4 separate regions of the Homo sapiens genome follow, and regions 2, 3 and 4 are each reported to be linked to region 1. The links are microRNA targets in miRTarBase. Many come from high-throughput screens and were not tested one by one. Region 1 holds a microRNA gene; each other region holds the end of a gene's coding sequence.

The links. The annotated mature microRNA hsa-miR-383-3p reads ACAGCACUGCCUGGUCAGA and lies in region 1 at 1,266-1,284, opposite strand. An mRNA with a match to its seed (bases 2 to 7 or 8) in the 3' UTR can be bound and repressed. Matches are read on the target gene's strand: a 7mer-m8 pairs with bases 2 to 8, a 7mer-A1 pairs with bases 2 to 7 and ends in A, and an 8mer does both.
Region 2: miRTarBase lists ACADL as a target of hsa-miR-383-3p. The part of its 3' UTR that is shown has no 7-base or 8-base seed match.
Region 3: the mRNA of SLC35A3 is a reported target of hsa-miR-383-3p. Seed matches in the 3' UTR shown: 7mer-m8 at 641-647.
Region 4: the mRNA of RNF24 is a reported target of hsa-miR-383-3p. Seed matches in the 3' UTR shown: 7mer-m8 at 1,282-1,288.

The regions. Positions count from the first base shown.
Region 1 is chr8:14,852,178-14,855,177 of GRCh38, forward strand. It overlaps MIR383 (microRNA 383), which reads right to left and starts at 1,333; the gene lies at 1,261-1,333. All of the region lies in intron 1 of SGCZ (sarcoglycan zeta), which reads right to left.
Region 2 is chr2:210,186,107-210,189,353 of GRCh38, forward strand. ACADL (acyl-CoA dehydrogenase long chain) reads right to left here. Exons shown (of 11, transcript NM_001608.4): 11 at 1,817-2,948. The coding sequence ends at 2,855. Among named protein-coding and RNA genes, the nearest start is that of KANSL1L, 16 kb to the left of the region's middle.
Region 3 is chr1:100,022,069-100,025,315 of GRCh38, reverse strand. SLC35A3 (solute carrier family 35 member A3) reads right to left here. Exons shown (of 8, transcript NM_012243.3): 8 at 1-2,930. The coding sequence ends at 2,840. All of the region lies in intron 1 of LOC124904230 (a long non-coding RNA gene), which reads left to right. Among named protein-coding and RNA genes, the nearest start is that of SLC71A1, 14 kb to the left of the region's middle.
Region 4 is chr20:3,931,188-3,934,434 of GRCh38, forward strand. RNF24 (ring finger protein 24) reads right to left here. Exons shown (of 6, transcript NM_001134337.3): 6 at 1-3,014. The coding sequence ends at 2,876. Among named protein-coding and RNA genes, the nearest start is that of MIR103B2, 15 kb to the left of the region's middle.

The DNA.
Region 1 (3,000 bases):
AAAATCTCAAGCGCAATATTTTTTCAGTGATACAAAATAATTTCTGTAAATATTTGGAGCATGTACTATATTGCCTTATGTTCAAGTCCAAGAACCATCTGAAAGGTAGAAATAGTTCATCAAGGTAAAATGTATTCTACAGTCATAATACTTTGTAAATAATTTATAGGACAAAAAATATTCAAAGATATCTCAGTTGATATATGGCTACAGAATATTCTTATGCTTCTAAATATTAAGGAAATAGTAAACTGTAACTCAAGAAAGGAAGCTGTACTTATTATATGTGATTGAGTAAAAGTCTAATCAAAATCAAAAATTAATTCAACAAAAGTTGCCATCGAGTACACACCAGCCCAAAGTAACAAACACCCTACCAACAATTGCCTGAAAATATTCTAGAATTAATTTTCACCTCAGTTGAACAATTTATTGACTTTTTTCCCTGCACGCCAGATGCCTATAGTCTCCCCTACAAACATCTTGTCTTTTCCATTTTTGTTCATATTTAGTTTTTGGCAACCACAGCTTGTATAATTACATTATGTTGGAGCAGGACCATATTAAGGAAACATTGCAAAGTACAAAAAATTTTCTTTGGCTCACCTCCCATCTGTAGTGTTTCATGGAGTAATAGCCTTTCTCTGCATCAAAGTCTTTCCTGGATTCCTGTGGTATTGTTCCCAGAATCTCCTCGTCTAAACTCTCCTGAAGCGTTAGCTCCTAAACACATATGTTACTATTTCTATGGGGCTTTTCCTTTACTAGGAATGGAAAACACTGTTGAGATGATCAGATATATACTGCTGATGAGGCAGCCACACTTACCAGCCAGAGGCCAGCTCTGCTTCTGAGGATACATAGAAAGTATATTCCAATAGCGGCCTTTGCATGTGTGCATTATAGCAGCATTCATATTTGAAGAAAGTCAAATTAAAGCATGCATATAAAACTTGTACTATTTGCAGTTTGAAGATTTTGCCCATGAATTTCAAATGTCTGCATGGAATCCCAAGTTATTTTCTCTTTATGGTATAAAAATGTTAAAGAGTGGGGAAGAGGAGGTAATGATCAAAATGCTCATGTGAGGAAACAACTAGGTATTTTATGAGAAAGACAAGCTTCCAAACACAGGTTAAACATGGCACTTTTCATCTCACCTGAAGCATGCTGGCCACTCCAGTCCACCAAATGCAGTTCCCTTGGGACCTACGCTGGATGGATACCCAAGGTCTCATGAGGTAAAGGCTAGGACACTTGCTCTTTCTGACCAGGCAGTGCTGTGGCTGATTAATATCCACCCAAAGCCACAATCACCTTCTGATCTGAGGAGCAGGTGACGGGGAGATTCTGAAGTCTCTTGATAAATTATGCAAACATAATCAAACAATACACATTGCAGGTTAAAAAAAAATTCAGTCACTGAAGTGGTTTGCTTTGTCCTTTAAAGAACTGAATCTAAATAGATTGTCATCAATCATTGGCAGTTCCTAGAATGACAACGCTGAGAAATTAGTATTACATGGGTACCATAGAAGAGCTATTTTCTTTCCTAGTGAAACGCTTGGGAAAGGAGAGAGGAAGGGAGAAAAATAAACAAGGCTTTTCTAACTACTGTTGGAATTTTCCTTTCTCTGTTCTTTCTTCAGATGAACCAGAAGACCAATTTAGTCCCAATATCCAATGCTTTCACATGACTACAGCTTATCCTAAGCCTTCCTTCCTCCTTGCCAATACAAAATACACACCTTTCAAGGATCTTTCAAGGCCTATATCAAAGGTCGAAATTTGCCTACTCCTAAGTCATTCATTTTGTAACGACATCAGTTTCTATGTGATTATATTATATATATATATATATATATATATATATATATATCCTTTTGTATATATATTCTAATTTTATATACTCTGTCTAAAGCTACAATATCTCCTTGCACAGAGTCACAAAATGTAAATTGAAATACATTATTGTTATTAGTTTGATTTTTGTGTTACCTCATCTTCACTATTTAGTAATCATCTTAAATGCAGTAACTTTTGACTTGTAAATGTTGGGCTTTTGACACAGAGTTGGTGTTAACAACATTATATGCAAAATGACTCACTTTACTATTTCATTCGCAATTCACAAAACAAAAAGTTAATTTGTATTCATTGAATAAGATAATACATAGACATATCAAAAATATATAATTTGTAGTTTATTTAGACTCAACATTGTTCCACAACATATCTAAAGCAGAAAGAAAAGATAAAAATATACACATTTATTTTTACAATAAATACTGTCAATAAGTTATCAACTAAATATTAAGGCACTTCTTAGATTAATAAAATTAATAAATTTCACATTGTGTAATATTGTTTTCATAATAGGAAGCCAGTGGTTTTCATTATTTTTCAATAGTCATCGTAGATATGATTATTGCAAATATAAGATATTTTGAATACATACAGTAATATAGTTTGGTGTTAAACAGTAGAGAGAAGAAGGATTTACTGGTCCTTCTGATTTCTTTTTTCACTTTTGTTGGATTATTTCAGGAATACCAGCAGGAATTAGTTTGCTATTATCATTTTATTTTCATAGAGAGGAAAGGAGAGAGTAGGTCAATTGGGATCAGTCTCCCAGGGCATATAAACCCGGCAGAGAGTGGCCCTCTTTAATCTCTGCTACCCTAGACATCAAAGGCTGCACTGCCACTATTCACAGAGATATGTCAGCATGTCCACAGGGGCCTGAACAATCATGCAGAGGTCCATGCTATGGCCTCTCTTGGGAAATCCCGCTCCCGACTTTATCTGGTATGCTCTCCCACCTCCCTCAAGATCTAACTTTGATGCAACTTCCTAGGCATCTCCATTATTTTATTTATTTATTTATTTATTTAGAGACGGAGTCTTGCTCTGTCACCCAACTGGAGTACAGTGGCACAATCTTGGCTCACTGCAACCTCTGCCTCCTGGGCTCAAGCGATTCTCATGCCTTAGTCTCCT
Region 2 (3,247 bases), not on the chromosome of region 1:
CAGCATGATACTGGTACCAAAACAGATATATAGACCAATGGAACAGAACAGAGGCCTCAGAAATTACCCCACACATCTACTACCATATGATCTTTGACAAACCTGACAAAAACAAGCAATGGGGAAATGATTCCCTATTTAATAGTGTTGGGAAAACTGGCTAGCCATATGCAGAAAATTGAAACTGCACCCCTTCCTTATGACTTATACAAAAATTAACTCAAGATGGATTAAAGATGTAAATGTAAGATCTAAAAACCATAAAAACCCTAGAAGAAAACCTAGGCAATACCATTCAGGACATAGGCATGGGCCAAGACTTCATGACTAAAACACCAAAAGCAACTGCAACAAAGCCAAAATTGACAAATGGGATCTAATTAAGCTAAAGAGCTTCTGCACATCAAAAGAAACTATCATCAGCGTGAACAGGCAACCAACAGAATGGGAGAATATTTTTGCAATCTATCCATCTGATGAAGGGCTAATATCCAGAGTATACAAGGAATTTAAACAAATTTAGAAGATAAAAAACAACTCCAACAAAAAGTGGGTGAGGGAGATGAACAGACACTTCTCAAAAGAAGACATTTATGTGGCCAACAAACATATGAAAAAAAGCTCATCATCACTGGTCATTAGAGAAATGCAAATCTAAACCACAATAAGATACCATCTCACGCCAGTTAGAATACCAATCATTAAAACGTCAGAAAACAACAGATGCTGGAGAAGATGTTGAGAAATAGGAACGCTTTTACACTGTTGGTGGGGGTGTAAATTAGTTCAACCATTGTGGCGATTCCTCAAGGATCTAGAACCAGAAATACCATTTGACCCAGCAATCTCATTACTGGGTATATACCCAAAGGATTATAAATCACTCTACTATAAAGACACATGCACACGTATGTTTATTGCAGCACTGTTCACAATAGCAAAGACTTGGAACCAACACAAATGCCCATTAATGATAGACTGGATAAAGAAAATGTGGCACATATACACCATGGAATACTATGCAGCCATAAAAAGGATGCGTTCATGTTCTTTGTGGGGATATGGATGAAGCTGGAAACCATCATTCTCAGCAAACTAACACAGGAACAGAAAACCAAACACTGCATGTTCTCATTCATAAGTGAGAGTTGAAAAATGAGAACACATGGATACGGGGAAGGGAACATCACACACCAGGGCCTGTGGAGGGTAGGGGGGTAGGGGAGGGATAGCATTAGGAGAAAATACCCAATGTAGATGACGGGTTGATGGGTGCAGCAAACCACCATGGCATGTGTATACCTATGTAACAAACCTGCATGTTCTGCACATATATCCCAGAGCTTAAAGTATAATAAAAAGGCCGGGTGCAGTGGCTCACACCTGTAATCACAGCACTTTGGGAGGCCGAGGTGGGCAGAACACGAGGCCAAGAGTTCGAGACCAGCCTGACCAACGTGGCGAAACCCCATCTCTACTAAAAATACAAAAATTAGCCAGGTGTGGTGGTGCGTGCCTGTAATCCCAGCTACTCAGGAGGCTGAGACAGGAGAATTGCTTGAACCTGGGAGGCGGAGGTTGCTGTGAGCAGAGATCACGCCATTGCACTCCTTGAATGACAGAGCGAGACTCCATCTTAAAAAATAAAGTACAATAAAAAAAATTTTAAAAAGACTGGTATCAAAATATTTTTTCTTCCCTCTCCTCTCTCCAGTTGTAATGGTTGTATTAAAAAACAATGTTTAATATCAACAATACCAAATAAAATGTTTGTGTTCTAAGTTGAGTAAGAATACATCTGTTTCCATGTTAAAGCTACTTTAAATTAATGGTTTATTTTTTGTAATTACTTTTAAGTCTTAAATCAAATGTCATTTCCTCACTTTTGAATTTTAAATGCTTACTTTATTATTTACATTGCACTTATGCTTGAAATTATCTCTTTTACATATTTACTTCTTACCTTATTTTACTACTTATTTGTTTATTCACTTATTTTTTAGTGATCTTGCCAGTTTTGTTTGTCATCATTGTATTAACAGCCTGGTTTATAGAAGACATAAAGTAATTATTAAGTTAATAAATACATTAACTGTTGCAAAAGAAAAGCCATTGCTTTGATACCTATAAAATGTACCAATATCTTGAAATTAAAAATGATGGATTATTCTGTGTTCTCAGATGTCAGCAATTGACAGAACCAAGGCATTCCCTGGTCAGGGTTAGGCAAATACTTAGCTGAGTCCTAGGGGTTTCAAGGCAGTAAGGTATGATGGCTTCCAGCTTCAATGAAAGCAGTTCTCACTCAGCAGCGTTTCACAGAGATGTTCTGCATAAGCTTTTGTTTGAAGAAAGAGTTCCATTGCTTAAAAACGGGGTTGGAGTACAGTGGTAAAAACCACTGTTCTAGGGAATTTGGAGCAAATGGTAGCCGAAATGAGTTTACATGCTAAGTTATATTTACTTTTCCCTTTAAAAGTCAATGTGCTATCTTATTAATGTTTTTATACTATAGCGACATAAAATTATTTCTGCCTTGGTTTGAAGATTTGAATGATTTATGCTTTTTAGAATTTTAGAGATAAATGAAACACCTAGGCAAGATTCAGAAAACCGTTTACCTTTGGCTACATAAAAAACTGTAAGTTAAACCTTATATTGGAAAACTAGAATTTTGGCTTCAAAGATTTGTCCTTCCACTGTGTTAATCTTATATTTATATTTTATTTCCTTCTCTATAGAGAGAGCAGGTAAAAACATGTTTAGTGTTTCCTCGCTTTCCAAGTTACATTTTATCTTGAGCAGATTTAAAACGAGATTAGCTGTAATAGGACTCCAGGATGTGGGCAGATGTCTACTTGTCAAAGACAATCTCTCTTGCAATCAGCTCCTTCATTATTTCATTTGTACCACCATAGATTGGCTGAACTCTGGCATCCACATAAGCTCTGGATAAATCAGATGATTGAATGAATAAATAAAATATATTAGAAACTGTAAATTTTGTCTTACCAGGTAACTCATAAACTATTCAATTAGTGAAGTACAAACAATAAAAGTCCTTCATAAATTACTTATTTTTTCAATATGGCATTCATCCTAAATTGGAATAATAGTAAAAAAAACTATTAAGATGTTAATAATCTGTATAGCTTTGTATTAATTTGATTAAAGAGATTACAAATTCAAAATAAAAATAATGAGTATGTTTCATCTGATTTAATTTTGTAAAATTCAGCACATATGA
Region 3 (3,247 bases), not on the chromosome of region 1:
TGTGAATGCACACTGCATTAATACATAAGTAACCAACCAATACTTCAATGTGAGCTAAACATAAATCATTATATTTCAGCTTGAATTCTGTGCATTTGCAGGATTTAGATTTTACTTAGCAGTAAGTAATAATGTAAGTCTAAATATTATTGCAGTCTAAAACTACCATGTTCAAAATGTGGTGAACTTAGTAAACAAATACTCTAAAGGGTGGTTACTGAAAATCATGTTGGGCATCCAGAAAGTTTGCTTGGTACCAATTTGGAATCACCACCAAAGTGATTTTAAAGATTTGGTAATTTTAAATGCTTTTAAACTTTGGATGGAATTGATGAGACCTGCAATCTGTAGACTATTACTGCAAAAGCAAGGTAACACTGCCAGTTCACGTTAGGCAAGGGTACCCAACAGTCTGTAACATAGTATTTTTGAGCCAATTCTGTTTAATAAAATCCATGAGAGCTATATAAAAATACTTATTTTTTACAGTTTTTATATCTATTAGAACAGTCTTTAAAAATATATACAGTATAGGCCGGGCGCAGTGGCTCACGCCTGCAATCCCAGCTACTCAGAGGCTGAGGCAGGAGAATCCCTTGAACCAGGGAGTGGGAGGTTGCAGTAAGCCGAGATCGCGCCACAGCACTCCAGCCTGGCGACAAAGTGAGACTCTGTCTCAAAAAAAAAAAAAAAGAAGTATTTTATTTTTTTCATTCATACTGTGGGTGTGTGTGTGTGTGTGTGTGTTTTCTTTTTTTTTTTTTTGAGACGGAGTCTCGCTCTGTCACCCAGGCTGGGGTGCAGTGGCACGATCTTGGCTCACTGCAACTTCCACCTGGTGTGTTCAAGAAATTCTCCTGCCTCAGCCTCCTGAGTAGCTGGGACTACAGGCGCGCACCACCATGCCCAGCTAATTTTTGTATTATTAGTAGAGATGGGATTTCACCATGCTGGCCAGGCTGGTCTCGAATTCCTGACCTTGTGATCCACCCGCCTCGGCCTCCCAAAGTGCTGGGATTACAGGCATGAGCCACTGTGCCCAGACAGTAAAATACTTCTTATACTCAGTAAGTAATTCTGTCTATAGTTAATAATTAAATTAAACCCATATTCAAATTATAGAAAGCATTTTTGCCCACCAAATCATCTTACCATTTCTAATATACTCTCTCTCTCTTGAATCAACTTATTAAATAACTCATGTAATCTGCATCCTCAGCTCCAGTGTTCATTAAAAAGGAAAAAAACCCACTATTTTAAAGCAAAATGGTGGCTCCTTCTCAGTAGCTTTTTTTTTTTTCTTTTTTTTGAGACAGACTCTCACTGTGTCGCCCAGGTTGGAGTGCAGTGGCGTGATCTCCACTTACTGCAACCTCTGCCTCCCGGGTTCAAGTGATTCTCCTGCCTCAGTCTCCCGAGTAGCTGGGACTACAGGTGCGTGCCACCACACCCAGCTAATTTTTGTATTTTTGGTAGAGACGGGGTTTCACCATGTTGGTCAGGATAGTCTCAATCTCTTGACCTTGTGATCCACCTGCCTCAGCCTCCCAAACTGCTAGGATTACAGGCGTGAGCCACTGCGCCAGGCCTTCTCAGCAGCTCTTGTGGGAACACAGAAAGGGAATTCAAAATTTGGCTACCTCTCCCACTCATGTGATCAGGGAAGAATAGGCTTATGAGAGACCTAAAAAAATCTTCCGAGCAGCCTTGGATTTAAAGTCATAGCGCTGTTTAAAATAAAGTAATATGGCAATCTGGAATGTCTCCAAGAAAAGTCATTTTGTTCTGTCACTGACATCTGTACTATTTGTTTGAATGTTGTTTTTGTAAACAGTTGTAGATTAAAGAAGTTTTTACAGATCAATGAGTAAAATGTTCATTTAATAACTTTCTAACTGTATACAGTATATGCTTGATAGTTCAAAATTCTCCAAATGTAGATATTATACAATAATTATTTTAAATTATTAAATGAGTATTTAATCCTTTTAAATTACATTTTGAAAATTTAATGGCAATTACACACAAATTTTAATTTAAAATAATATTAAGGACTTAATCTGATTTACAGAAATGAAATGCAATGAAGAGATTAAGGGCTAACCTCCATTACTATAAAATTCTCTGGCTACCATCTAGCACAGGAGCAACTGGATTGCTTTCAGCAGTCTTGAAGCACTAAAATATCTTAAAATTCATATGGAGAAATAGTATGTATCTCTACATTAAATTTAGATTTGATATTTATTCTCTGACAGATCAGACCCAGAATATTAATTTTTATGTAATTGAACCAAAAACATTTAGCAATCCTTCATTTAGTAATCTTTTGTATAAATATAAAAATCTCTGATAAGTGAAATGTTTTTTCAAATTATACTTCTATTTTTCACAGCTTTATAGGTAATTATAATTTTCAAACTTTAAATATTTCATGTGATTTGATATATCTGTACAGAAAGAGTAAGATAAAAACATTTAATAAGATTAAATCTAATTTGCAAAAATTGGTATCTGACATTTGTTGTGTGCTCTTGCAAAGAGTGCATAGGACATTTCTGCAGCAATCAAAAAGGTAAAATCTTTTTAAACTCAGATTTCAAGTTTCCTCTAATATTCCTTCTAATCCTAATCCCTGGAAATACTTTCAAGTTTTGATTTCTAGATGCAATGTGTTTTGTTACATATACACATGTCTTATCCTTAAACTTTTAAAAAACAGTATGATCAGATTCAGCATGATGATATCTTCTCAGACTCTGTAGAAGTCCTCTGTGCAAGATTAATGTCGAGATTCCTAGTGCCCCATCGTGAAAAACCAGTTAAAGATAGTATACAACTATGCTTTAGTGGGATTTCCTGCAGGTTTGGGATCATAACCATACAAAAAAGTAGCTGTTATTACAAGGATGGCTCCAAGGAAAAAGACACTGAATAAGATGAAGACAAAATAAAAAAGAGAAAATCAGATTAAAAGCAGAACAAGTTCCTTCTATTTCTTTACTATAAAAACAATTATAATGTGGGGAAAAATGTTCCAGTAACACGGCTAACAAATCTTGAGTACTTACTACATTCCAGGTATCTGGCTAAGTGCTTTATATGCATTATTTCATTGAGTTGTCACAGCAAATCTATGAAGATGTATTAGTATTCATTTTTTACACATGAGGAAACAGTTTTAAAGAATTTAAATAACTTGTCTAAAGTCCCACAACTTCAAGAGGATCAAACCCAGGTATGTCTA
Region 4 (3,247 bases), not on the chromosome of region 1:
CAGACCAGCAACATTCTATCTTTGAGCTGCTTAAGAAACACACAAAGGATACCAGCCAGTGGTCCAAGAGCAGACCAGAATCCCCACGCAGCTACACAGTAACAAGTCCCAGCAACTCCTGAAGATAGATGCGGAAAGGGTGACTTTACCATGGGGTTCGAGTCTGAGCCAAGAGAGTTATAAAGGGGTCCCTAACTCATTCCTTTTTCAAAATAAATAAAAAAAGGACTGTCTTTCAAACAAAAACCCTGCGATTTTAATGAGAATTAAAGGAGGATGTAAATTAAAAGGCCTGTTTGTCTGTACAGCAATGCAGATGCGCAGGCCCATCCTGGTGGAGGACCCAGATGCAGGGAGCAAATATTCGGGTTGTGTTGCTAAGAGTCGCAGGAACTACTGCTAGTGATACTAGGCTTGCTGCAGGAGGATGTCACGCTGAGAAAGGGAGATGACTAGGAGCAGAAAAAGTACTCTCACTGTTCCAGCTTCCAGCCCAATCCTAGCAGAATGAATGCATTTTAAAACCAGTCCACATTCACATGTGCTGAGAAGGTTGTTAGTGGTCCCTCATCTGGGCAAAGCAGACCCAAGGTGGTGCTGAGTGCAGAGTGCAGAGCATTCTTGTGCTCTCCTCTCATGGCTGGAACTATCTGGGCTTTGCGCCCTGGTCCAGTGCTACGTATCAACCCCCTCAACATGCCTGTGGCTCTGACACGGGGGGATGAATTAACTTGCCTCTGTTCAAATATACAGACTTGGTGAGGCTGTCTTTTGTTAGTACTGATGCACAGGGACAGAAAAAGCCTGCAACTTTCAGTTGGGAGAATCCTATAAAAGCTGTGAGCAGCAATAATTTGCAGTATTGATCATAGGAAGGGAAAAAACATTCTCTTTCCTATTAGAGCCCCATAACAGAGGTGACATCTGTCCCAAGGCCATTCCATGGAAAATGGTGGCTGCTGGCAATTAGTGAGGCTAGTCCAGAAGCAAGCCTCCTTCTGATATTGGTCACTGAAAACAGCTCACTATAAACGGGGTGTTTTGTGGCATTCAACTCTGTTGTGCTACAAATAGAGAATGCAAAAAGACGGTGAAAGTAGGAGTGCATAAATAGTTTTTTTCATGGGTGCCAGACAGGCTAAGGCTTTCATATAAAAATATTCCTCACTTTCCTCGTCCTGTTTAGGAAGCAGTCCAGTTGGCATACCACGAATAGGTCACACATAGGAAATGGCCTATTTTGACCAACTGGATTTGTAATTTTCCAAACCGGATTCTGTCCAGCACTGTTCTACACTAATGGAAATTTTCCTCCTCATGCCCAGCCATCTGAACCAAGGACAGGTTCCTTCTCCTAAGAGGACAGAGGTTGGATTCCAGAAAAAAATCCTGGAGTCATGCCAAGAGCAGAGTAGCAAAGCTCCCTCCATCCATTCTCCATGTCACGCAGACTGTATTCCTAATGAAAAACTTCCCCCACTCACACCTGTGGGATGGAGTGGAGCAAAGCAGTTGACGAGGAATTGAGGCAGGCGCTCCTAAGATGGAGGGAGGCGGAGAGCAGGGCTGTGGAAAAGAATTTTCCATCTGACCTGCTACTTTCCATAGCTAATTTATACAATATTCACAAATCTTAATGGACTTTGAGTCATTTCTAGAAAAGTTGGACAGAAAGAGCCAAAGAGCAGCATGCGTTTCTCTCCTATAAAGACACTTTCACTTTCAGTTTCGGAAGTCCAAATACTGAGGCACACACCAACGGTGGACAGCCCTGCAGGAGCTTCCTGAAACTATCTACAATTCCAAGTGGATCACCAGCTTCAGAATTACACAGGGATCTTATTTGGGATAAAGTGTTAAAAAGTGAATGACAGGCTTTTTTTTTTTTTTTTTTTTTTTTCTGAAGTAGAAAGAGAGATAGGGCAAGAGAGAGAAGAGATGGAAGGAGGGGGAGAGGCCAAAGGGTCGGCATTCCCTTCATCCAGCCGGGCCAGAAGTATGGGCCATTCTCAAAAAGCCACTGCTCTTTGGAGCCACTCGAGAGGTTCACAGTGGCTCCCTTCTGAGGCAGTGGCAGTGGGCTCACAGCAGCTACACTGGAACCACAGTGCACATGTGGGGATGTGGGCAGCCTCCTGGATCACTCAGGGACAGTGTGGACTCAGGGCCCACTCCCTGCTGGGGCTCTGGACGGGCCTTACTGGTGCATAGGAGAGGGAAATGATAAGAGGAAATGGCTTCTGACTAGGCCTTTCCAAGCGCATCTCATGTTTTCAGCTTAGATGATTTGATAGCAGGTGTTGTAATCCTGAGGGGGAAATGGGTGACGAGGAACACTGCTACTCAAAGCCAAGATGGCCTTATCAAAGGCATACAACATGAGCCTTGTGGGCACTGCCTCACCAACCACTGGTGGCTGGTTGTGCTGGTTTTACTTGGCTCAAGGGCTGCTGGGAAGGTTTGCTGCGACAAAGGCCTGCATGGCCTACAGAGAAACCCATCCATCCGCAGGTGGGGGTGTGGCTTGAAAGACCTGCTCTTAGTTCCCTTCTTTACCCTCCTGCTTGACATGGAGATGAGGCTCCAGGAGAGAGAGTGTAATGGAGTTAGTAAGAGACCCTCATGAAGTTTCTTGAGGCAAACCCGCAGGCTCATCCACTCCTCTTCTCTCGGCAGGGGGTAGTGTCAAAGTGCTTTGGTTGTCACAAGACCCAGACACCTAGGTTCCCAGTTTGGCTGGCCCAAGAGTTCTTCATGAGGCAAAAGAAGTGGCAGCTGGTGTCCTAGGTAGAGAGCAGCCATACAGACACCACATGTGTTCCTCCTGGCTCCACACAGACGTCGTGTCCAGCAACAGTCTGATCCTTGCGGTAAGCTATACAATGTTCTCTGCCCCAGGAAGGGGCCCCTGAGGGGGTCCACGGTCCTGCTTACTGTGCAACTGGGCCAGCTGTAGAACTGGCATGTTGCACAGGGGACACACTTTACGAACCTCCAGCCACTTAATAAGGCACCTGCAGAAGGAGACACCACAGGGGGAAGATGTCAGTCCTATGCTCATGGCACGGCTGTTCTGCTGAACATCTCCATATCTGTCACCCAGACAACGTCTGCTGTATGGTCCAAGGAGCTCCCCTCCTAGGTGGTGAACGGATGTCACCCCCTGGAGAGAGGGAAGAGACAGAGAGAAGGAGTGGGGAGAGGCCAAGGGGTCAGCAATCCCCTCTTCCTTCCAGAGCCTCCCATC